7 linked regions of the Homo sapiens genome follow. The protein of the gene in region 1 interacts with the protein of each later gene in a pairwise test. Each region holds a gene or a part of one and is shown in the gene's direction. Other genes may lie near its edges.

Evidence for each region.
Region 2: the proteins of ERG (region 1) and TARBP1 interact in a two-hybrid assay, tested with the Homo sapiens proteins (one large-scale study listed by BioGRID and IntAct).
Region 3: the proteins of ERG (region 1) and MYO5A interact in a two-hybrid assay, tested with the Homo sapiens proteins (one large-scale study listed by BioGRID and IntAct).
Region 4: the proteins of ERG (region 1) and ZBTB44 interact in a two-hybrid assay, tested with the Homo sapiens proteins (one large-scale study listed by BioGRID and IntAct).
Region 5: the proteins of ERG (region 1) and RNF111 interact in a two-hybrid assay, tested with the Homo sapiens proteins (one large-scale study listed by BioGRID and IntAct).
Region 6: the proteins of ERG (region 1) and EXOSC9 interact in a two-hybrid assay, tested with the Homo sapiens proteins (one large-scale study listed by BioGRID and IntAct).
Region 7: the proteins of ERG (region 1) and ZMYM2 interact in a two-hybrid assay, tested with the Homo sapiens proteins (one large-scale study listed by BioGRID and IntAct).

What each region holds. Positions count from the first base shown.
Region 1 is NC_000021.9:38,397,478-38,400,977, reverse strand, and holds part of ERG (transcriptional regulator ERG), read left to right. Parts: intron 1-332; coding exon 333-404; coding exon of another isoform or gene 405-616; exon of another isoform or gene 617-906; intron 907-3,500. UniProt on the Homo sapiens protein: Transcriptional regulator. May participate in transcriptional regulation through the recruitment of SETDB1 histone methyltransferase and subsequent modification of local chromatin structure.
Region 2 is NC_000001.11:234,427,180-234,430,679, reverse strand, and holds part of TARBP1 (tRNA (guanosine(18)-2'-O)-methyltransferase TARBP1), read left to right. Parts: intron 1-378; coding exon 379-593; intron 594-1,002; coding exon 1,003-1,264; intron 1,265-1,355; coding exon 1,356-1,544; intron 1,545-2,913; coding exon 2,914-3,104; intron 3,105-3,291; coding exon 3,292-3,363; intron 3,364-3,500.
Region 3 is NC_000015.10:52,522,381-52,525,880, reverse strand, and holds part of MYO5A (unconventional myosin-Va), read left to right. Parts: intron 1-1,678; exon of another isoform or gene 1,679-1,699; coding exon of another isoform or gene 1,700-1,798; intron 1,799-3,500. UniProt on the Homo sapiens protein: Processive actin-based motor that can move in large steps approximating the 36-nm pseudo-repeat of the actin filament. Can hydrolyze ATP in the presence of actin, which is essential for its function as a motor protein. Involved in melanosome transport.
Region 4 is NC_000011.10:130,308,418-130,311,917, reverse strand, and holds part of ZBTB44 (zinc finger and BTB domain-containing protein 44), read left to right. Parts: intron 1-1,443; exon of another isoform or gene 1,444-1,738; intron 1,739-3,500. UniProt on the Homo sapiens protein: May be involved in transcriptional regulation.
Region 5 is NC_000015.10:59,078,163-59,081,662, forward strand, and holds part of RNF111 (E3 ubiquitin-protein ligase Arkadia), read left to right. Parts: intron 1-2,773; coding exon 2,774-3,122; intron 3,123-3,500. UniProt on the Homo sapiens protein: E3 ubiquitin-protein ligase. Required for mesoderm patterning during embryonic development. Acts as an enhancer of the transcriptional responses of the SMAD2/SMAD3 effectors, which are activated downstream of BMP.
Region 6 is NC_000004.12:121,807,823-121,811,322, forward strand, and holds part of EXOSC9 (exosome complex component RRP45), read left to right. Parts: intron 1-2,144; coding exon 2,145-2,277; intron 2,278-3,500. UniProt on the Homo sapiens protein: Non-catalytic component of the RNA exosome complex which has 3'->5' exoribonuclease activity and participates in a multitude of cellular RNA processing and degradation events.
Region 7 is NC_000013.11:20,059,727-20,063,226, forward strand, and holds part of ZMYM2 (zinc finger MYM-type protein 2), read left to right. Parts: intron 1-1,326; coding exon 1,327-1,498; intron 1,499-3,119; coding exon 3,120-3,245; intron 3,246-3,500. UniProt on the Homo sapiens protein: Involved in the negative regulation of transcription.

The sequences.
Region 1 (3,500 bases):
ATGTACCATATAATTTTTTAATAAAACGAGATTGCCCAGTGGGAAGTGGGATTGAGGGGGACACAGATAGGGCTTCATCAAGAAGTTATAAAATCAAAACACAAAACGCTTTATAGCAAACGGGGCACAGGAGTACACCAAGGCTCCAAGTTTCACTTCCATCTTGAGAATCTGACAGGTGCACCTGTCTGTTTCTCCGGAGCTCTGTTAAGGCAGGTTTGAGGAGGTCTCTTCCCTTTGTTGTCATAGGGAAAAGTAGATTTGGCGCTGATGTTGAGATCGACAACCACAACAAAAGACCTTCACATGTTTGTCTTTCCTTTTGTCTGCAGGGGGTGCAGCTTTTATTTTCCCAAATACTTCAGTATATCCTGAAGCTACGCAAAGAATTACAACTAGGCCAGGTACGAAAACACCCCTGTGTGATCTCTTCATTGAGAGACATCCCAGATGTCCTGCTGAGATCCGTGCCCTAAGTCACGTGATACAAAGAGAGCTGATCCCGGAGCTGAAGCCAGTCCCAGACAGTCTTATTCTGCCTCTGTTGATTTGGAGACTAAATCCACTCAAACCATTTCATTCAAAGACCACACTAAAGGAATTAAGAGCAGATTAGCCCTTTAACTAGCTTTTCAGAAAGACAGATGGGCAAAGAAGGCATCCTGGATGCCTGGCAGTTAGGAATAGGCCGACTTTTGAACTAACAGAAGGATCTGTCCCTCCTCGGGGGAAGAGCACAAAACAAGGACACTCCCCAGATTCACAGTGACCGATTATCAGTATGTCACAAGAAGCCAGTCTTGCAGAGCAGAAGCATGCAACCAGTAGTATTTACATCTGAATCTTACTGCCTGTCCTCCAAATGATTTAATTAGGTAATAAATTTACATGCCATTCATGCAAAAATAAACATCTATCAAGTGCCCATTAGTGCCAAGCGTGGTGTTAGACTCTGGGAATATATAGATGAACCAGGCTTCAGTAAGCTTCCTGTCTTCAGAAAGTTTACTTCTTCATTCAGCTTGGTTTGTTCATTTGCTGAGTGCCTCCTCTGTGCCAGCCACGGATGGTATGATGGTGAACAAACCGAAATGTTTTGCCTCCAGTTCTAGATGTTTCAGTAGAGTGACCTAGAGCCAGAGAGACACATATGTACACATAAATGTTTTCCCTAATGTGATAGATTTTATGGTAGAGGAACCACTTCTAGCAATACAGGGCGTAGGAGCAGGGGTGGGGAGGAACTCAATCCCCCATGAAAGGCATAAAGATGCTTTCCAGAGGAATGGCCACATGGCAAAGGGGAATTAGATGTTTGCCAGACGAATAATGAGCAGGGAGAGAGGGCATTTCCCAGAAGGGTATAGCTTGCCTTTAGCATTTGTCCTCTCCCTGGGACTTACATCAGCCCGATAAGCTAGGTATCATTGTACCAGCCTCACAGCTGATGACATTGTGTTCAGGGTGGTGGGATGGTTTCTCCATATTCATACATGCTTCCAGAATTCATGTTAAACTCTATCACATATCCGGAATACACAAGTCTCAGTTCGAACTGGTTCAAGATCTAGGCTTGGCAACTACTCTTTCTTTCTAATGAGAAAGACTGGGGGCCCAGGGAGCTAAAGAGAATGAATGAGGAAGCTTCTCAGGCTGTTCAAATACTGACACTGCCCTGGTTACTGCCTAGTGACTTCAGGCTGGCAATTTTCTCTTCTCTAACGTCAGAGAAAAAGTTTACTGTCTTGCTCCTGGGAAGCATGATGGAAAGGCTTAGCAGCTAAGGGGTACTAAGAGGTAGTAAGTCATCTCTGTCATGTAAAAGATTTCACAGGCCATTGAAACATGGGCAAGACCCAGTGCCTAGAGTCTGCAAGATTGGTCCTAAAGACATCCACCACGTGTATTGCGAGTGGAAAATAGAAATTCATGTTTGACTCAAGCTTTAGAGATTTTGTAATTCTGTGAGCATTTAAAAAATATTTCCATATAAACTAAAAAAATAAAAACTATTTCCAAAACATTTGGCTAGGGTTTTAAAAATTTTTTTACTTTTTAATTTTGTATTTGTTTGTTTATGTTAAGACATCTCATAGGTGCCTCTGACTGAGTTGCAAAGCCAGGGGTTGTGAGCTAGTATTATAAACTGTGTTAAAAGATCACAACACTGGCCAAATTCATTGGCACAATCTCTCTGTCAGACAAGCCAGCTGACTGATGCTACCTGGTTAAGACAGTGGGTCCTGGAGCTGCTTTGTTTTCACATTTTAGGATATGGTGGATTTGGAAGGTATGGCCCATCCAGGTGGATGGAGAAGAGGGTGACTGTGAGGATGTTGGTTGGGACTCCCTCTCTGCCCAACCCAGGGAAGGCAAGGGTGGCAAACTCAGACACCTCCCATGCCGCTCTGATGGTGGTCTTCCATGGGCCCATAATTTGAGCGTGACCTGGGAGAGAGCACACTTCCACAGCTCCACTACTAGTCAAGTATGTTTTCGCGACTCAGTTTGTACCTGAAATAACCTGTTTTGACCACTGCTACTGTGATTATGAGAACCAATACAAATATTGGTATCTGACCTGTAAAGAATTTAAAGCAGACTGAACAAGCCAGAGGACTATTTACTGTAGGCCCTATTCAGGGACTTGAACTTGGAGATAAGAACTAGTTATACACCTCGGGTCATCCATTGCTAAGCGATCAACCTTAAAGGACTGCTCCTGTGGAGATAAAAGCTGTGAACCTGCAACTGGAGAATGAACGTCGTGATGGCTGAGGGGGAAGAGCTTTTGCATCACTAACTTTCAGAGCTGAACGAGCTCCAGAGGGAGGTCACTGGGAATCTGACGATATCCCTGTGGTCAGTGGGTACCTGACTACTTTCAGAAAGGTGATTGTTGACTGTTTCTTTGAAGGTCCTTGGGGATACAGACCCAAATCCCTGTCTCCTCCACTCTTGGTTTGCTGTGCCATGATCTTCATTTCCATACCCTTTGTCTAATCCCACATCCGAGGGAACCGAACTCTGGTCAGCGTTATTGTGCTGACCATGAAGCAAGCCAGGCTCCTAGGTAACAACTCTACTTAGACCAGAATCTGTCTCTTCTCTGCATGGTGGCCGTTTCATTATAGAGTCCCTGATAGAGGAGACAGTGGTGTTCAGGGTTTACTGGTTAAATTAGACAGCATTCCGCACCCTTTCTGCAGAGACTCCTACACATGTGTGTTGTCCTGCTGCATCCACCTTCCCAGCACTTCCTCACCACCCTTCCCTCCTTCCCTTCCCACTGTGAGTCACCCATCCCTGGGTTACTGCCCCAACCTACCTTTTCTTTTCTTTTATCTTCTTTTCTCTTCTTTTTTTTTTTTTTTTTTTTTTGAGATGGAGTCTCACTCTGTTGCCAGGCTGAAGTGCAGTGGTGCAATCTCGGCTCACCACAACCTCTGCCTCCCGAGTTCAAGTGATTCTTCTGCCTCAGCCTCCCGAGTAGCTGGGGC
Region 2 (3,500 bases), on another chromosome or scaffold:
TAGGAATGCTGCATGCAGATGTGTATGCGAGTAGGAGAAAGGTCAAGAAGGACTTACACACAGCTTTGGGTTCTGTACGTAGCGAATCTGTCATGTACTAGTTCCAGGTACCTGTTTACCAGATGAAAAGATCCCATTGTTGTCTTAATCTAAATTGCTGAGTTCTTATTGCTACTTTAAAATTGTTCACTGCCAATCTGTAGAGAAGTAGTGGAAGTGAATGATGTGTACTGGATTTCCTTTTATTTCTCCTGATATTCAGGAGCAGGCAGGAAGAGGGAAAAGGAGAGCTTGAGCTTTCCATAGACTGGCAACTGAGGTCATTACTGATTAAGACTTGTGCATATTAAATAAAACATTGTCACATTTCCTTTTCAGGAGCCAACAGTTGGAAGTCAGATTCAGAGAGTAGTGAGCATGGCTGCCTTGGCCATGGTGTGTGAGGCCATAGACCAGAAGCCTGAGCTGCAGCTGGACTCTCTCCATGCTGGGCCCCTGGAAAGCTTCCTTTCCTCTCTTCAGCTCAATCAGACGCTGCAGAAGCCCCACGCAGAGGAGCAGAGCAGTTATGCTCACCCCTTGGAGTGCAGCAGGTACAGGGAAGGTTAAGGCTTAAAAATCCATTTCTGTTGTTGTCACCGTGAGTTCATGATTGCCCAACATTGCTTATAAAGTTATAGAATTTTGGGGCTGAAGCTCCATTCAGGATGAAAGTGTGGTATAACATTATTCATCTCTGTTACTGGAGACTTGCTGACTTTTCTGCATCTAGTTTTCACTGAATCATTTCAGATGAGCAAAAGTACCTACTTTCAGAGAAGTTAGAAAATTAAGGTTTATGTGGTTTCCTTAGTTTTTGGTAGATAGGCTGTTTGATAATGACCATTTATATCTGTACACTGCCCCCCCCCCCCCACCTTTAGAAAGGATAGTGTGCTACGTGCAAAAGACGTGGAGGCAAATTGGGGAAGTATGGCCTAGTAACTTTATTTTTTATTTCAGTGTTTTGGAAGAATCGTCATCTTCCCAAGGATGGGGAAAAATAGTTGCACAATATATTCATGATCAATGGGTGTGCCTCTCTTTCCTGTTGAAAAAATATCACACCCTTATACCAACCACAGGGAGTGAAATTCTGGAACCGTTTCTACCTGCCGTTCAGATGCCAATAAGGACTTTGCAGTCTGCACTAGAAGCCCTCACAGTTCTTTCTTCTGATCAAGTTTTACCAGTGTTCCATTGCTTGAAAGTGTTGGTTCCCAAGGTAAGATAGAGTGAAACATGAATTGAACAGTAACTATAGGAGTGGCGATCAAGTTTTTGAAATAAGTATGTATTTTTTTTTTTCCTACCAGCTTCTGACTTCCTCTGAATCACTCTGCATAGAGTCTTTTGACATGGCGTGGAAAATTATATCTTCTTTAAGCAACACTCAGCTGATATTCTGGGCTAATTTAAAAGCTTTTGTTCAGTTTGTTTTTGATAACAAAGTTCTTACCATTGCTGCCAAAATCAAGGGCCAGGCATATTTCAAAATAAAAGAGGTAACTAACTTTCTTTTCTTTTTGCTTTTCTTTTCATGTGTGTGAGCTTCAGCACATGAGGAACATGAGAGTTGTATTCACAATTAGATTTTTGGCTCTTTATTCCTTCAGTCAAAAATATTTTTGAACCTTCTTAAATATCAAGAGTAAGAATGAGAAAATCTGACAGATGTAGAAGAGAAGGTACAAAACGGTAGCCTGGAGCCACATCTGCCTCAGAAACGGTTTGTTTGGTTCATACAGTGTTTAAAATTTTGATTACCTGGCAACTTTTAATTGTTGGGAAATCTGGCCAGGCGGGGTGGCTCATGCCTGTGATCCCACCACTTTGAGAGGCTGAGGCGGGCGGATCACGTGAGGTCAGGAGCTCGAGACAAGCCTGGCCAACGTGGCAAAACCCCGTCTTTACTAAAAATACAAAAATTAGCCAGGTGTGGTGGCGCACGCCTGTAATCCCAGCTACTCAGGAGGCTGAGGCAGGAGAATTGCTTGAACCCAGGAGGCGGTGGTTGCAGTGAGCTGACATCACGCCACTGCACTCCAGCCTGGGCAACAGAGCAAGACTCCATCTCAAAAAAAAAAAAAGTTGGGAAATCTGTATGAAAAACTGGATTTCTTGGAAATGAGGTAATCTAGCAACACTGGTCATTCTTCCATGACAATGTAATTGATCGCTCGGTTGAGTAGGAGTTGGCATGCTCTTTCCACAATCAGTCTCATTTCACCCGGATACTTGAAGGCAAATGTCAGGCGCCATTTGTCATTGCACTTTGGCTGAGGTTTTTTTTTGTGTGTGTAGAGAAATATTTTTCTGACTGTAACCCTTATCAAAAGGTCTTGCTGGTTTCTGGAGGTATTTTCATTTGCAGCTACTGAGATAGGAACATACCAAGGTGGAGTTCCAGTGTACCTCCTGATCCCCAGGGGAACAGGGAGAGTCAGATTCCGTTATTTCTCTGCAGCCCTGTGCTGCCTTTCTTGGTCCTTTTCTGCCCCACAGTACATAGTTAGAGACGCTGGTCTTTGCTGCCTCAGCCAAAGGAAGGCCACTGGCAAAATGCAAACAAAGGAAGCTGAATGTGTGTGGGGTGAGGTGTTTTTCCCCTTTGATTCTACTGCTTTGGCAGTTGTTTCTCTTGAAGAGTCCTGGATGAATATCACTATCAGTAAAATTTTATTTATTTTTATTATCAAGAGATGAAATAGCATTCTCTGATTATTGATCATCTCGCAAAGTTATTCTAACAGTAATGAATTTAACAGTTTTTAGACTGTTCATGATTATGTTGAAACTAAGTAACAGTTTTTAGCAGCACTGATTTTTTAAAAACTAAATCAAGGATAAAATGACGGTTGTATTTTATTCCAGATTATGTACAAGATAATTGAAATGTCTGCTATAAAGACTGGAGTCTTCAATACACTGATAAGTTACTGCTGTCAGTCTTGGATAGTGTCTGCTTCAAATGTGTCCCAAGGATCTTTATCAAGTGCTAAAAATTATAGCGAACTTATCCTTGAGGCTTGTATATTTGGAACTGTGTTTAGGCGTGATCAAAGGTAAAAGATGCTATTATTTCAACTGGTCATAACTTGTATTAAGTGCCTACTTGGGTATAGAATTATGTCTTTGTTTTGAGGCTTTCAATTAAAAGAATATAAATTATTAGTTAACTTTAACCTTGGGGATTTAATTTTTTTTCTATTTAAAACCTGTTGTTCTTTATCAAATGTTTTTTATGGAAAGACTTGTTCAGGATGTACAGACCTTCATAGAAAACCTTGGACATGACTGTGCGGCAAATATTGTTATGGAAAAGTAAGTATGGTAGATTTTCTCTGTCTTCACATAAATGAGATACTAAAAATTTAACATCATATGACAAACATTCTGTATTTGCTAAATTTAATAAGTGACATCTAATATATTAATAAGATGGGATGAGCCTTTAAAAG
Region 3 (3,500 bases), on another chromosome or scaffold:
AGGGGCATAAATAACCTGCTGTTACCTCAACAGCAGGCAGACAGCTGGTATGATATTTATTAGTAGAAGTTAGGGAATGGGTTGGGACATGGGGAAGGTTGGGCTGATTCCAGAGATAAAAACTACTATTGTAATTACTAGAGGAATAGGAAAATCATTAGAAGTATTATCAGTGGATAAGCACAAGGATCTTCCCCTTGCAGAGGATTATAGGAAGGAAGTTCTAGGATAGATTACAAGGAAAGATGTATTAGTGATATGCCATAATTATGGTATTTAACATTGTGGTTAAATCTGAAAAGTGCTCTTTAAAAAAATGTCATTCAGATCTTAAGGGCAGATTTTAATGTGTGATACAGATCAGTTCCTATTACAGTGAAGGACAAGAGACTGTTCAATTTCTTCTTTTTAGCCAGAATGGTAATGGTTTTGTCACAGCAATTTAACAAGGCTTCCATTTTGTAAGTTTTTCCAGCAGTATAAACATTTTAAGGACAATAGCTAGGTTCTTGGGATACTTGTCTGGAAACGAATATTTTGGTTAAAACATGTTTTGTTGATTTTTAAAAATAACAGCTTTATTGAGATATGTGTCTTATACCATATAATTCACCATTTAAAGTGTACTATTCAATGGTTTTTGGTTTATTCACAGAGTAGTATGTTGATGTGTTTGTGGTCAACCTGCCTTGCTCCCAAAAGAATTAAAGGAAACTATGATATCTCATTGCTTCTGATTTTGAAAATATTTGCTAGTCTTGACTTGCCAGTGGATATCTATATCATACATCATCCATAGGTGCTTTTGGTAACTAGAAGCAATTCTACATTTGTGGAGTAGGGTTTATCAATTAGACCTAGAAGGATTATCGGGAACATTATAATGAATGGCATGCTATTCCTCCTGTCATCATGTTCCCAGACACCATGGATAGCACCATGGTATCCATGCTATAGGATGGTCAAGATTACTTGAAGCTGGGTTTTTTTTTTTTTAATTTTTTATTTTTTTTGAGACAGGGTCTCACTGTGTCACCCAGGCTGGAGTGCAGTGAAATGAACATGGCTCACTGTAGCCTTTAACTCCTGGGCTCAAGCTGTCCTCCCACCTCAGCCTCGTGAGTAGCTGGGACCACAGCTATGCACCCAGCTAATTTTTAAATTTCTTCTAGAGATAGTCTCAGTATGTTGCCCAGGCTGGTCTTAAACTCCTGGACTCAAGTGATCCTCCTGCTTCCACCTCCCATAGTGTGGGATTACAGGCATGAGCCACCACACCCAGCCTATTTTATTTATTTATTTATTTATTTATTTATTTATTTATTTAGGTTCAGGGTCTCACTCTGTTGTCCAGGCTGAGGTGTAGTGGTGTGAACATGGCTCATTGCAGTATCGACCTCCCAGGTGCAAGCCATCCTCCCACCTCACCTTCCTGGGTAGCTGAATCTACAGGCATGTGCTACCAAACCCAGCTAATTTTTGTACTTTTTACAGAGACAGGATCTTGCTGTGTTGCCCAGGCTGATCTCTAACTCCTCAGGTCAAATGATTCTCCTGCCTCGGCCACTCAAAGTGTTGAGATTACAGACATGAGCCACCATGCCTGGCTTATTTTTAATTTTAAAAAAGTTTTAATTTTTTTGTTTACTTTTGTGTTTTGTTTTGTTTTTACCTGAAGCTGTTTGATTAGGAGGTTCCCATGTGTGCTGAGATGCTGAGTATTGTAACAGTGCAAAGACAATCTAAAATTCCACATTTGCAAAGCATGTTAACTTGCCTAGATGAAACAGCTCTTAAGGTCAGTAGATTGTATATGTGTAACTTTCCATTCCCAACATATCCTCTCATATATACAGGAGCCACATGGCCTAGATTTTTTCTGGGATAGATCCACTTTTATATTCTATGGCACTGTCTCTTCAAACTACTGATCTTGGAAATTCTAATATTTTCATGTCGAGACTGTATTTCTCAGACTGCTTCCAACATCTTAAAGAGGAACAGAAATCTCATCTCTGATCATGTGCCCTGACTTGGAGTTTGGCAAGGATGTTAGCTGTCCTCAAGTCTCCTGTCATGCCCTTTCCATTTGAATTTCCTCCTGGTGTTCCTAGGCCTGTTAACGACTTGCTGTTCTCCTAGTTCCGCAGCTTGGAAACCTCCGTATCTTTTTTCTTGTCTTTCACATTCGACTTCTTCTATATCAATTCTAATTTCAGTTGACATCCAGCTGATAGCTCAGATTTGGAACTCCCACTAGTACTCTTTTTCTCTGTCTTAATGTCCCAAACATGTTTCTGTCTTATTACGGTTACTGTATTTGTGTATATGTTTACCACTCCCACGATACTCTAAGCCCCCTGACATGCTGTTTTGTTTACCTCCTGTAGAGCCTAGCCCAGTGTTACACAGAATAGCTGCTCATTGAATATTTGTTGAATGAATACTTAAGCAGGGGAGGGATGGAATGAAAATAATGGTTTGGCATGATCAGTCCACTTGTAGGGACGAAGCAGGGTATAAAGATGTGGTTAAACAAGTAAACACATTTTCAGGCATGTTGAACAGGATGAGTAATAGAACTGGGAACCAGGGAGACCAGGAAACTTTCAGGAAACAAAATGTGAAGTGGTGAAGGTCTGGTGGACTGAGGCAGGGGCAGAAGGTGTGGGAAAGAAGAGGATAAATCCGAGAGACAGGTCTCTCCGAGATGGATTACATATAGGATGGGAAGGAGCAGGAGTAGTATGAAATAATGCCAGTAGCTCCAGACTTGGAAACTGAAAATTAATTCCTGTTTCATCACAAATTTTGACTGCCTCTGTGGAACTTGAATGCTACTAAGAAATACTTCTTTACATAGCTTGACAAAGCAAAATGCCCATTATTTCCTCTTGAAATTTGTTACTGTTTCTTGAAGTGTGAAAGTTTTGTGTATTGTCCAGAAAAGATTACAGAGAGATTCTGATTCTAATGAGAATTGCTGCTGCCACATATTTTAGATCTTCCTGGTACTTTTAGCTTTTTTTTTTTTTTTTTAAATAATGAAAGAGAACTGGAGGAAGCTTTATGAATGGGCTTCCAGGGATTTAACTGTAACCTCAGGGGAGGGGTGACAGGGAATGCTAACTCGTGTATGGGAGAATGTGGGAGAGGAGAGATGATCCGCCTTACTTCTTACCTCAGAAGGTAATTTAGTTTCTCTGTTTTTCATTTTATGATGAATTTTGCCTCCATTGGGAGAATTCAGGAGTACGTGGTCCACTAGAGGATAGACTTGGATGTATTTGTCTCCACTTCAGGCAATTCCCAGTGAAGTATGAGGTACTGTTGGAAGTCTAAACTTCTGATCTGTGGAGTAAGGTCTGGCCATAGACAAAATATTATGTGAGCAATTCCACTTCTTCCACCTCACCTGAAGGCATGTCCTCCATCCTACAGTGGTCTTCCTAGACTTATTCTATTTATCTTCCTAGGGAGTTTGTCCTTTTCTCCCCAGC
Region 4 (3,500 bases), on another chromosome or scaffold:
AGATTTGGTCAGTAGGAACCATTTCAAGCTGACTATTGTGTGTCTTGACACCCCTGCTCCCCATTAATCTTGGAGTGCTTTCTGACACGAGTTACTCCAGGGTTTATCTTATACTTTCTTTGCTCACCTCTGGAAAGAGCTGTTTATCCAGGGAGTCTTGGTTCTTTTTAATGAGAAATCGTATATAGAAACCAAGTTCTGGATGTTTGGCATATTCGTTGCTGCTGCAGTATCATTGCTTCTAGGTGCTTTGAGAGGAGAGAACTAAGAAAAAGGTTTTTGCTTGTTTAATCATGAGTTCAGAGTGATATTCCAATTCCTATTTAACAAGCAGACTTTTTCTTCCTTGACTCTATATTTGTCTCTTGTCTTAAATGAAAATCTTGGTTTTTAATACAGTTAATAAACTGGCCAAGCACAGTGGCTCATGCCTGTAATCCCAGGACGTTGAAAGGCCGAGGTGGAAGGATTGCTTGAGCCCAGGAGTTCAAGGCCAGCCTGGGCAACATGATGAGACCCCATCTCTATAAAAAATAAAAAAATTAGCCAGGCGTGGTGGTGTGTGCCTGTGTTCCCAGCTGCTCAGGAGGCTGAAGCAGGTGGATCACTTGAGCCCAGGAGGTTGAGGCTGCAGTGAGCCATGTTCATACCCCACTGCACTTCAGCCTGGATGACAGAGTGAGACCCTGTCTCCAAAAAAAATAATAAACTTATTTGCTTTCTCCCACTGTATACATAAAATCATTTTAAAATTATAGTGCTGGTATTGCTAATACCAATAAGCTTCATGTAGTTTAAGATTTCTTTGCATTTATTTTCGTATTTAGACTATATTGCATGAAGAATGTATAATGAGTACTGTGTTCAAAAGTCACTTGAAATACTTTTCTCTGGTTATGCTACCAATTTGATATGGTTCATAGGTTTCAGTTTTTACTTAGGATTTTATTTTTGAATATGTAAAGTATGTACATAGTGTAGAAGTCAAAATAATGTTTTAAAACTATACTTGGATTAGCCGGGCATGGTGGCACATGCCTGTAGTCTCAGCTACTTGGGAAGCTGAGGCAGGAGAATTGCTTGAACCGGGGAGGTTGCAGTGAGCCAAGATTGCGCCATTGCACTGCAGCCTGGGTGACAAAGCGGGACTCCATCTCAAAAGCAAAACAAAACAAAAAAAAACTATATTTGGATAAACCTCATTAAAATTAGTTTTTAAAGATGAAGTATTGTTTACCTTTACCATACTCCTTTTAGTATCTACTACATTCTCACATCAAGCTCAGAAGAATTAGCAATAGACAAATTATGTTATGTGAAGCCACATAGAAGTACTTTTAAATTTTAAAATTAGATTCTGCTTCCTCTGGCAAAGAGAACTAAGACTAGTTTTTAGAAGTTAGCAGAGAAGTGGATTCCATGCTTACTTTTTTTTTTTTTTAAAGACGGGGGATTTACTGTGTTGCTCAGGCTGGAGTGCAGTGGCTATTCACAGATGTGATCCTACTACTGATAAGCACGGGAGTTTTGACCTGCTCTGTTTCTGACCTGGGCCACTTCTCTCATTAGGCAACCTGGTGGTCCCTCACTCCCTGGAGGTCACCATGTTGATGCCTAATTTAGTGCAGACACCCAATCGGCATAGGATACTACAGTCCAGAACTTCTGGGCTCAAGGGATCTTCCTGCCTCAGCCTCTTGAGTAGCTGGGACTACAGGCACACACCACTGCGCCCAGCTCTTTTTCTTAAATAGTGATTTAAAATAGTGATAGATTCTCATTATGTTGTCCAGGCTGATCTCTCAAACTCCTGAGCTCAAGTGATCCTGCTGCCTTGGCCTCCCAAAGTGCTAAGATTACACATGTAAGCCTGTAGCCGTAGGCCTAGATACCATATTTTTAAATAAAAATTCCATAAAAATAGAACTGTAGCTTTTACTTAAATCATGTCTTTAAAGAGGCAGGTAGTTGGTAGAGGTTTTATGACTCCATCTACTTTTTTAACTTTTTTTTTTTTTTTTTGAGATGCAGTCGCCCTCTGTTGCCCAGGCTGGAATGCAGTGGCTCGATCTCAGCTCACTGCAATCCACCTCTGCCCCCTGGGTTCAAGCGATTCTCCTGCCTCAGCCTCCCTAGTAGCTGGGATTACAGGCATGTACCACCACGCCCAGCTAATTTTTGTATTAGTAGAGATGGGGTTTCACCATGTTGTCCAGGCTGGTCTCGAGCTCCTGACCTCAAGTGATTCACCTGCCTCGGCCTCCTGAAGTGTAATCCTGGCCTCCTAAAGTGCTGGAATTACAGACGTGAGCCACTGCGCCCAGGTGACTCCATCTACAACAAAACTGGCATAAATATGCTATGTACAGATAAAAAGGCATTTGGATATGTGATCAGTGGAGATAACACATTTTGTTTGGGTTGGACCAAATTTGATATAAATTCATAATTATGTGATCTCAAATGAAGTTTTAAGAGGGAGCAGTGTTCATCTAAAGTAAGCAGAGCACAATTAGGCAGTTTATCAGCCTCCTGTCAACCAAGTGCTGAAAAGCAAAACTGTGCCTGTAGTGTGTTTTCCTGTGTTCATCCTCACTGTCATAGGTCACACTAGCTGAGGCTGGCGTTGCAGGTGGTAAAGGAATTACCAAGGCAATTGTAGGTAAAGAAGGGCAGATTTATTAGAGAAAGTATGAAAGTAGGTTGGTTGCAAGGGTGCAACGGGCAGATCAGCAAGAGAGAAGCTGACTGCCAGGAGACAATGGCTTGCTGGGCATGTTACAGGATGATGCTTCTGCTGTGTGCTGCAGAGAGGGCTATGTGCAGTACTGATAAGGCCAAGGTTGCAGTGAGCTAACTTGCATTTTTCTGTCAGCTGAGAGTCTGGTGATAAGTTGAGTGCAGAAAGCTTGTGAGTTATTTGTGCAAGAGGGCTGTGTGTCTTGGACCATGAAGAAAGGCAGACTTATACCTTATCTGCTTTTTCTTTTTGCTGTACCCTTTTCCCACCCGCCTGACTCCTTTTCCCTTACTAGGACTCCACAATCACTGCTTTCAATAACAGAGTGAACATCTAGTTCCATTAGGGAGTGGAGTGGGAAGATGGAGAATGCTTGCACTTGGACCCATTCACCCTCATTCTGTCTTTAATCTCAGTAAAATACATACACTACCCAAGGTTCTTAGAACATATAAGGTGATGAAGAAGAATACTATAAACAGTTGCATGGGTATGTGTAGCCATGTAGCAGCTAGAACCTGTTGTGTAGGCTGAATGAACTAATACAGTGTTGATAATAATGCTAACATTTGTTATGCCCTTTCTGTATGCCAGCTGTGCTAAACATTTTATACATTATCTTATTTAAATCTCACATTAACACTTTGACATTGCTACTAGTATCTTATTTTGCAGTAAGGAAACTGGTATCTAAAAGCATTAAATGACTTGCCTAGAGTATCACAATAAGTGGCCGACCCAGGTTTCAAATTCAAGGCTG
Region 5 (3,500 bases), on another chromosome or scaffold:
GGAATAATTCCTATTGGCTATAAATTGTGATACTTGGATCCAGATGAATAGTTTGCTGTTTCATAAGTACATTTATATGTATAACAACAATACTTGTGGAGTAAGAATATGTCTCTCTCTGCTTTTGAAAGGTTTGTGGTCTTGATGAAGTGATAAAACAACTGTACTTGAAATGCTATTATTTAAAAGTTTTACTATCTTATTAATAAGATGTATTGAGAAGATATGTAAGGCCTGGCTTGGTAGTATGAGCATGTAGTTCCTGCTCTTCAGGAGGCTGAGGCATGGGGATTGCTTGAGCTCAGGAGTTCAAGGTTGTAGTGTGCTGTTATCACACCTGTGAACAATCCTTGTACTCCTGCCTGGACAACATAGTGAGAACCTGTCTCTAAAAAAAAAAAAAAAAAAAAAAAGACCAGGCACAGTGGCTCACGCCTGTAATCCCAGCACTTTCGGGAGGCCGAGGCGGGTGGATCACCTGAGGTCAGGAGTTCAAGACCAGCCTGGCCAACATGGCGAAACCCTGTCTCTACTAAAAATTCAAAAACTAGCCGGGTGTGGTGGCAGGTGCCTGTAATCGCAGCTACTCGGGAGGCTGAGGCAGGAGAATTGCTTGAACCTGGGAGATGGAGATTGCAGTGAGCTGAGATCACACCACTGCACTCCAGCCTGGGCGATAGAGCGAGTCTCCCTCTCAAAAGAAGAAAAAAAAAAAAAAAAGAGAGGTATAGGTAAGGCTACTTACGATTAATCATAAAGCAAATGGTCTACACTGTAAAGCTATGGGAATGCAGTGAGTAAATGTTGGAATAAAGCATAGTATTACATCTGCAAGTGATATGTTGAACGTCTAGGAAACAATATCAAGAACTTTTTTTAACTGTTGGGAACACAAATAGAGGAAGGGAAAGGGTTTTTGGGAATGTGGAATATGTCACTCTTAAAATGGTCAGCAACCTGTTTTGTTTAAACAGTGAATTAAAGTGATGTCTAAAGAGTAGTTAAATAAATGGACTCATTCTGAAACAAAACTTCTTGCTTTGTAATATTTGTGAATGTTGTATAATGATTACACAAATATAAAACTTTGCAACTAGAAAAAATGCTGTGAATTTGAGAAAGGATAGTTAACAATCATAAAACATAGTGGATTCATTTTTTATGATTAAGAGCTAGCTACTGAGCTTTGTGCCTTCTTGAAGAGTAAAGCATTGATTTGAAAACAGAACTTTTAGAAAATTGGTTTAAAAATTTGTCTTGCAACTTTTAAAAATTAGATTTGTTGAAAGTTTCCTTTAAGTACATGCTAACAAGGCATACTTTGAAAATATAGTTGAGTTATTGTTACCTAACTTCTGCCCTTGCTGAATGAATCAAAAGCATTAAAAATTGAAAACTTCTGTAATGAAACTAGAGAATGGCTGTTGGTCTATATCAGACTTCCAAGAACATCTTCCAATAAAATGAAATTTGTATTGAAATCTAAGACAAACTTTTTTTTTTTTTTTACATGTCAAGTAGATGCACATCTCTAAGAGTAAGGAAGATGTGTATTCCTCAGAGAGATTTTTCAGCAGTCACTTTGAAACATAAAGATGTAGAATGAAGAAATGGTAGGAGCCATCTTATTAAGGACTTTACGTCCATATTTGATGGGAAACAAATAGGTCTCCTTCACCTTAATGTAGCACAGGAATAATGACATGGGGTAGGGAGAGAGAGAGACAGTTTGGAAAAATGTTTACACCCTATTATGACAGAGCTTCCATATATGCAAATAATACTTACAAGTCAATAAGAAAAAGGTGAGTAATACAATAGGCTAAGCATGTAAATAGATAATTCTGAGAACACATACAAGCGGTCAAGAAATAAAAGATTTTTCTCAGATTGGCATTTATTTTAAAAATTTAGTGGTAATGTGGGGGTAATCAGGCCTTCTTGTGTGCTCCTTTTTTTTTTTTTTTTTTTTTTTTGAGGTGGAGTCTCACTCTGTCGCCCAGGCTGGGGTGCAGTGGCATGATCTCAGCTCACTGCATCCTCCACCTCCCAGGTTCAAGCGATTCTCCTGCCTCAGCCTCCCTAGTAGCTGGGATTACAGGTGTGCATCACCATGCCTGGATAATTTTTGTATTTTTAGTGGAGACGGGGCTTCGCCATGTTGGCCAGGCTGGTCTCGAACTCCTGGCTTCAGGTGACTCTGCCCACCTTGGCCTCCTAAAGTGCTGGGATTACAGGTGTGAGCCACGGTGCCTGGCCCTTCCTGTGTACTCTTGATGGAAATATTAATTATGGCAACCTTTTGGAAAGGGTATTTTTATTAACTGGCATCTAAATTTATTTTTTTCTTTCTGTCCCACAACTACTTACAGGAATTTATGCTACAGAAATGATCTCTATATATGTGTGTATACATGTGTGTAAATGAAAGAGTGAGTGCAGGAGTGAGCATATACACAGATATTTATCATAGCATTTGGGTTTCTTTTTTATCAGTGGGGATTTTGTCAGTACATTTTGGTGTGTTCATATAATAGAATGTTGTGAAGCTGTGAGTGAAGTTAAACTATAATATATATATTGACATAAGATATCCAAGATTATTGTAAGAAGGGAGCAAGTTGCTTGAGCAGTTGCTTGAATACTTTACTTGATAAAGTATTCATAAAAATAAAATACTAATATGTTTAAAAGTACACTAGGAATGTATAATAGCAATATATGTTCAACTGCATGGTGCCTATGTAACATACTCAAAATATTTTTCTTGCAGATGCCTCTTTGACAAGGCCACTTCATCATCAAGCTTCTGCCTGCCCGCATTCTCATGGAAACCCCCCTCCTCAGACTCAGCCTCCGCCTCAAGTGGATTATGTTATTCCTCATCCTGTACATGCTTTCCATTCTCAAATATCTTCTCATGCAACATCTCATCCTGTGGCACCCCCACCACCAACTCACTTAGCCAGTACAGCTGCACCAATCCCTCAGCATCTTCCTCCTACACACCAGCCAATTTCGCACCATATTCCAGCCACAGCACCTCCAGCACAGAGACTGCATCCTCATGAAGTGATGCAGAGGATGGAAGTTCAAAGGAGGAGGATGATGCAGCATCCAACGTATGTTTTACGTTTTTAAAAAGAAAGTCAAGTTTGCTTTTTCTTCTACTTCCATTGGTCTTTACAACTCTGAAATCCAACTAGGCATGGTGGCATGCACTTGTAGTCACAGCTCCTTGGGAGGCTGAGACAGGAGGATTGCTTGAGCCCAGGAGTTTGAGTCCATCTGGGCAACACAGTGAAATACTGTTTTTTGTTGTTGTTGTTTTCTTTTTTTAAAAAAAGAACAAAGAACAGCAACAACAACAAAAAAAACCATGAAGTCTTTAGAAATAATGTAACTTGTAACTATAAGCTGGGTGAGGCTCATTCCCGTAATCCCCAGTTGCTCAGGAGGCTAAGGCAGGAGGATAATTTGAGCCCAGGAGTTCAAAGCTG
Region 6 (3,500 bases), on another chromosome or scaffold:
GATACTTCCCAACATTTTTCTTTTCATGGGATACTTATAAACTTAGGAATTTACTATGGCATGGTAGTGTTTTATGTTTCCTAAGGCTGTACAGTGGTTAAGAGAATTATATGCTAGGCTCTAATTTGGGACAGTGGGGTGAGAATTACTGTGGGTTATTGGAAGATAGGGGACTTTGGAACATATTAGATGGAGTAGTTCTAGGAGTCGGTTACAAGGGGGGATGGTTCACAGACTGGAGGAAAAAAATCTAATGTTCTTAAGTTTTCCAGCGTTTTCATTACTTAACTGCTAAATCCTCCTGTGGCAGAAAACTTGGAGTTTTTCAGGTCCATTTAATGGTGCTTTCAAATGAAAACTTGAGCCTTAAATTCCTTTAGAAACAAGGGAAGATAAAAATATTTCACACAGTGTTGTGCACAAGGACTAGAGAAACACTTACAAGTTTTAGTGATTGTAAGTGTAGAGTTTTATCAGAGGAAAATGGGCCAGCATTGTCCAGTAGAAATAAAATGTGAACCATATATATAATTTTCTTATTTTCTTCTTTTTTTTGAGATGAGGTCTGGCTTTGTTGCCCAATTTGGATTTCAGCAGCGTGATTTTTGCTCATTACAACCTCTGCTTTCTGGGCTCAATGAATTCTTCAGCCTCAGCCTTCCGAGTAGTTGAGACTACAGGCATGCACCACCATGCCTAGCTAATTTTTGTATTTTTTTTGTAAAAAAGAGGTTTTGCCATATTGCCCAGGCTGGTCTGGAACTCCTGAGTTCAAAAGTGATCTAGCTACCTCAGCCTCCCAAAATGCTGGATTACGGGGATGAGCCACCATGCCTGGCTGTTTCTTTTTCTTTTCTTTTCTTTTTTTTTTTTAAGACAAGGTCTCCCTCTGTCACCCAGGCTTGAGTGCAGTGGCGTGATCATGTTTTATTGCAGCCTCAACCTCTCAGGCTCAAGTGATTCTCCTGCCTCAGCCTCCTGAGTAGCTGGGACCACAGGTGCACACCATGCCCAGCTAATTTCTTTATTTTTTGTAGAGATGGGATTTCACTACGTTGCCCAGGATGGTCTGAAGCTCCTGGGCTCAAGTGATCCGCCTATCTCCACCTCCCAAAGTGCTAGGATTATAGGCTTGAGCCACCATGCGCAGCATTTGTTACTTTTTAAATTTTTTTTTTATTTTTTTGTGACAGGGTCTCACTCTCACCCAGGCTGGAGTGCAGTGGTGTGATCATAGCTCACTGCAGCCTACTTCTGAGCTCAAGTGATCCTCCCACCTCAGCCTTCCAAGTAGCTGGGACTATAGGTGTGTGGCATACCCAGCTAATTTAAAAAAATTTTTTTTGTAGAGACAGGGTCTCACTTTGTTGCCCAGGCTGGTCCCAAACTCATGAGCTCAAGTGATCTTGCAGTCCTGACCTCCCAAAGTGCTGGGATTACAAGCATGAGCCACCATGCCTGGCCTCATATGTGTAATTTAATATTTTCCAGTAGTCACATTAAAAAGGTAAAATTAATTTTTATATATTTTTAATTAATATATTTTCACGTTAATGAAATAAAATGATTAATGAAATAATCAGTATTTTAATAATTACTCATGAGATAGTCTACATTCTTTTGTTTCCACTAAGTCTCTGAAATCCAATATTTTACATACTCTGATTACATTTCAAGGGCTCAGTAACCACAGGTGACTATTGGCAAATGTACCGGACAGTGCAGAAATAGACAGTATTTTTTTCATGAGCCATTAGCAGAACGCAGTAGAACTTTGGAGTACAGGACATTAGGGCAACTTTAGGGTTAACCAATTTAACATTATCTAAGTTTTTATTAATGAGCCAGAAGTCATTTAATCAAAGAGATAGCATTAGGTTTAGATTATATATCATTTAAGTAAATCCAATCTGAACTTAATGTGATTTCATTGTAATAACTAGAGATACCCACTTAGCATTCATTTGTGTTCATAAACACAATAATTTTCTTGTCTCTTTCCCCATTTCAGTGACCCAAATCCGTAGGCTCAGACCTTTATTCTCTGTTGACTTTATTGATGCCATCTTTTAAAAATTCATTACCCAAGAAATGGTAAGCATTCGGTCTCAGATTTGTTCAGGTCCATTTAACATTCATTTCAGAACATATTTATTGGTGGATCCCAATGAACGAGAAGAACGTGTGATGGATGGCTTGCTGGTGATTGCCATGAACAAACATCGAGAGATTTGTACTATCCAGTCCAGTGGTGGGATAATGCTACTAAAAGATCAAGTTAGTGCTTTGATTAATGTCCCATTAATAATAGGTTGCTTCTCTTTAGATGCTTTTTCTTGTCTTTTAACAAAAATCCAATGGGGATACTTCCAGTGATTTATTCTAGGATGTGTTAGAATCTGGTTTCAGTACTGTCACTATTAAATACATTCTGTTGACTGGTGGCTATGAGGTATCCTCCTCCTTCCTACCTTGGTGCTCCCGTGTCTGGCCTGCTGGAGTCTGACCCTTCCACCTAGAAGCAGGGTCTAGTGAAGAAAAAGATTTATATCCCTATTAAAAAAAAAAAAAAAGTGGCCGGGCATGTTGGCTTACGCCTGTAATCCCAGCACTTTGGGAGGCCGTGGCTGGTGGATCACTTGAGGTCAGGAGTTCAAGACCAGCCTGGCCAACATGGTGAAACCCATCTCTACTAAAAATACAAAATTAGCTGGGTGTGGTGGCTGGCGCACGCCTGTAATCCCAGCTACTTGGGAGGCTGAGGCAGGAGAATTGCTTGAATCCGGGAGGCAGAGGTTGCAGTGAGCTGAGATCGTGCCATTGTTCTCCAGTCTGGGCAACAACAGCAAAATTCCATCTGAAAAAATAAAAAATAAAATAAATAAATAAATATTAGCCGAGCTTGGTGGTGCATGCGTGTGGTCCTGGCCACTTGGGAGGCTGAGGTGGGAGGATTGCTTGAGCCTAGGAGGTGGAGGTTGAGTGAGCTGAGATCGTGTCACTGCATTCCAGCCTGGGCTACGGAATGAGACCCTGTCTCAAAAGCAAATAAAAATTTTTAAACATCCAATAGTAGACATTATGTAAAAAGATAGTTTTACTTGCACTTTTAGAACTACAATTGGCAGTAGTTCTGAAACCCAGCTATATATCATATTCACATGGGAGCTTTTAGAAAATAGATCTCCATATAGCATACAGTGTAGATGATTAAAAGCTTCTTTAGTTTGAATTCTAGTTCTGCCCCCATACTAGCTGATCTTGGGCAAATGATTTTATATCTTTGGGTCTCACTTTCTTTATCTGTAAAATAGGGAATGATGTTATTGCCAACACCTTGTTGTTATAAGGATATAAATATATTGCACAGTGTCTAGCACACATTTATTAAGTGTGCAATAAATGTTAGTTTCTGGTATCATCATCATCATCTTTACCAGCATCACAAGTACTACCCAGATTACCCACAGAAAAAGGAAGTTAGTGCATCCTGGAGCATA
Region 7 (3,500 bases), on another chromosome or scaffold:
CAGGTTCCACATCCGTGACCAAACACAGACTGAAAATACAGTATTCTGCCTGTAATCCCAGCACTTTGGGAGGCTAAGGTAGGCGTATCTTCAGCCCAGGAGTTCAAGACCAGCCTGGGCAACATGGTGACACCCTGTCTCTACTAAAAATGTAAAAATTAGCCAGGCACAGTGGCATATACCTGTAATCCCAGCTACTTGGGAGGCTGAGGTAGGAAGATTGCTTGAGCTTGGGAGATGGAGGCTGCAATGAGCCGTGATTGCACCACTGCACTGCAGCCTGGTCTACAAAGCAAGTCCTTATCTCAAAAAAAATGAAAATAAAAAATTATTTGAGGATGTGAAATCTGTGTAGAAGGCTGACTGTAGGGGTGTGGAACTTGAGTATGCATAGACTTTGGTATCCATCCACAGGTGGTCCTGGAACCAATCCCCTAGAATACTGAGGATAACTCTAGTTGCAGTTACTAGTTTAATGAAGCTAATAAAACCATCTTTACCTTTCTTCGACAGTTAACTTAGATTTGGTTGAATCTCTGTTGTCATGATTGATTGCTTTGTGTATAGTATGTATATGTTCATCCTCGAGAGTGACATTTCGCGGATGTCTGTGCCTGCTCTGTGCATATTAAGTTTATATTTGGGTTCATTTTCAAAAGGAATATTTGTGGGCCATGTGCAGTGGCTCACGCCTGTAATCCCAGCACTTTAGGAGGCTGACATGGGCAGATCACCTGAGGTCAGGAGTTCAAGACCAGACTGGCCAACATGGTGAAACCCCCTCTCTACTAAAAATACAAAATTAGTTGGGCATGGTGGCACATGCCTGTAATCCCAGCTGCTGGGGAGGCTGAGGCAGGAGAATCGCTTGAACCCGGGAGGCGGAGGTTGCAGTGAACTGAGATAGCGCCATTGCACTCCAGCCTGGGCAACAAGAGTGAAATTCCATCTCAAAAAAAAAAAAGAAAAATATTTGTGAAGCCATAAGGTTTAGAACTGAAACATAGAATTTCATATAAAATATTATTTTATCCCAAATCACTTGCAGTACTTAGAAGAACACTGTGTCAGGGCTTGGCTATTATAGTCCCCTGGGGGACAGAAATACTTCAAAAATTCTTTTTCTTTAATTTGAATTCCAAAAAGTAGATGCTTGTATTCTAGGCTTTCTTATCACAGTTAACATCTTAGTTTTGTATGTGTTCTTTTCAAAGCTTTTATCCAGTGTGATATTACAAAGTAGATCATGTGTCAGAGTAATTTTTAATTTGGAAAAATACCTTTTAATGTTTAGTAAACCTAACTCAAAATGATTTGGTTAATTAGGTGCCAGTTCCTGTTTTTCTGCCTGCTCCATTGGACAGCAGTGAGAAGATTCCTGCAGCAATTGAGGAGCTAAAAAGCAAGGTTTCTTCAGATGCTCTTGATACAGAGTTGCTTACAATGACGGATATGATGAGTGAAGACGAGGGGAAAACAGAGACAACCAACATCAACAGTGAGCTACACTAAATTATACCTTGCGAATAAGTGTTAACATTGGTTATTTATAAGTATTGTTACAGTACTTTCCAGGGCATATCATTTTGTTTCAACTTATGTGGGGGTGAGGAAAGCATTGTAACAAAAATGTTTTTTATATTAAGAGATCTACACTGTATTTAGCCAGGTGCCCTCAGACAGATATCCGAAGCAGGAATTTGGTCTTTGGTCTCTGTTTTAAGCAGGATTTGACTTGTAAAATCAACTCAAAATTATTCTTGTTAATGGAGTAGTGCTGATGCAAAACTATAATAACTTGTAGTAGACTCTAATGATGATCAAAACTCTTATTTTGTAATAGTTATCCCTAGTTTTTTGTTTTGTTTTGTTTTTTTTTTTAGATGAACTCTTGCTCTGTTGCCCAGGGTGGAGTGTAGTAGCATGATCCCGGTTCACTGAGATCTCTGCCTCCTGGGTTCAAGCTATGCTTCTGCCTCAGCCTCCTGAGTAGCTGGAATTACAGGCACGTGCCACCACGCCCAGCCAATTTTTGTCTTTTTAGTAGAGACAGGGCTTCCCTATGTTGGCCAGGCTGATCTCAAACTCCTGACCTCAGGTGATCCACCTGCTTCCCAAAGTGCTGGTATTACAGGTGTGAGCTACCACACCCAGCCCCTAGTTTTCTTTTATTGCTTATACTAATAAAATAATTTGCATTATCTAAACCAGAGTTTATCTTAACCTCTGTTAGGGCAGTGCTTGCGCTACATGGTATAACGTGATGAGTGTGTTGTGGATGGTTCTAAGTCACTTAGAATATTTATTTTCCACCCTTAACCCTCTCTTGATACCCAAAGTCCTATTTCAACCTTGAGCTAATTCTTACCCTTACCCTAGAGGACAATCAAAATACTATAATTTTCTCTGGATTTAATAATGAGACAGTGTTTTTGAAGCACTGTGGTAAGGAGTTGTGAAATTAGTGGGTTGCAACCAGTGTTTTTGTTTAAGAAAAGAAAAAGCTAAGTGGAATAGGGTAAGAGAAATGACAGTGTGAATCCCTCATAGAAAGGGTAAGTATTATTTTGTGAAACCAGTGTGTATACAGATGTCTTTCTGTTCCCCACCATCACCTTGCAGTATGTGCTGGATAAAATGCATTTCTTGCCATGATTACAACACAAAAACACTTGAAAGCAACTGATCGAACCATTAAAAGGCAGTTGTTAATATGCATATATTGAACAATCTGAGAAACCTGGGTCAAAATTCAAAGAGTATTGAAAACTACAGTTGTCTACCCTCATTAGTTTATTTTTGACAAAAAGTTGCTTTTAGAAATACTTTACTTGTTGAAGTTGTTTTACTATCAAAGCATACCTATTAGCTTTTGAAGGGAGTCCTCCTGTAAAATTTATAGGATTAAAAGTTTTCATGTGCTTGTGACTAATTATGAGGTTTATAGTGGTTTACATTTTGAGATAGTTATATATATAATATGCCCTTTTCTTTTGTGACATTATACGTATTTTTTTATATTGCATTTAAAATTAAATGACTTGCTTTTGCCAGATTAAATACAGATACCATTGGGGTTTTCTGTTTTGATTCCTAATGATAATATGGATTGATTTCAGGTGTAATTATTGAAACAGATATAATTGGTTCAGACCTTTTGAAGAACTCTGACCCAGAGACACAGTCCAGCATGCCTGATGTACCATATGAACCAGATTTGGATATCGAAATAGATTTTCCCAGAGGTACTCAAAACCTTTATGACTATGGAATTTAGTTATGGAGTCAACTGTGGTTATGATCATTTACCATTTGATGTTTGTGTCATTGCCTTTTAGCAGTGTTCATATTTTTTATTCTTGTTATTTTTTAAACTCACCTTAAGAGTTAACTTCATATTTTGTTGTTGTTTTTTTTTAAAAACCCACCTTAACAGTTAACTTCTGGAATGAGATCACTTGAGTCCAGGAGTTCAAGACCAGCCTGGGCAATGTGGTGAA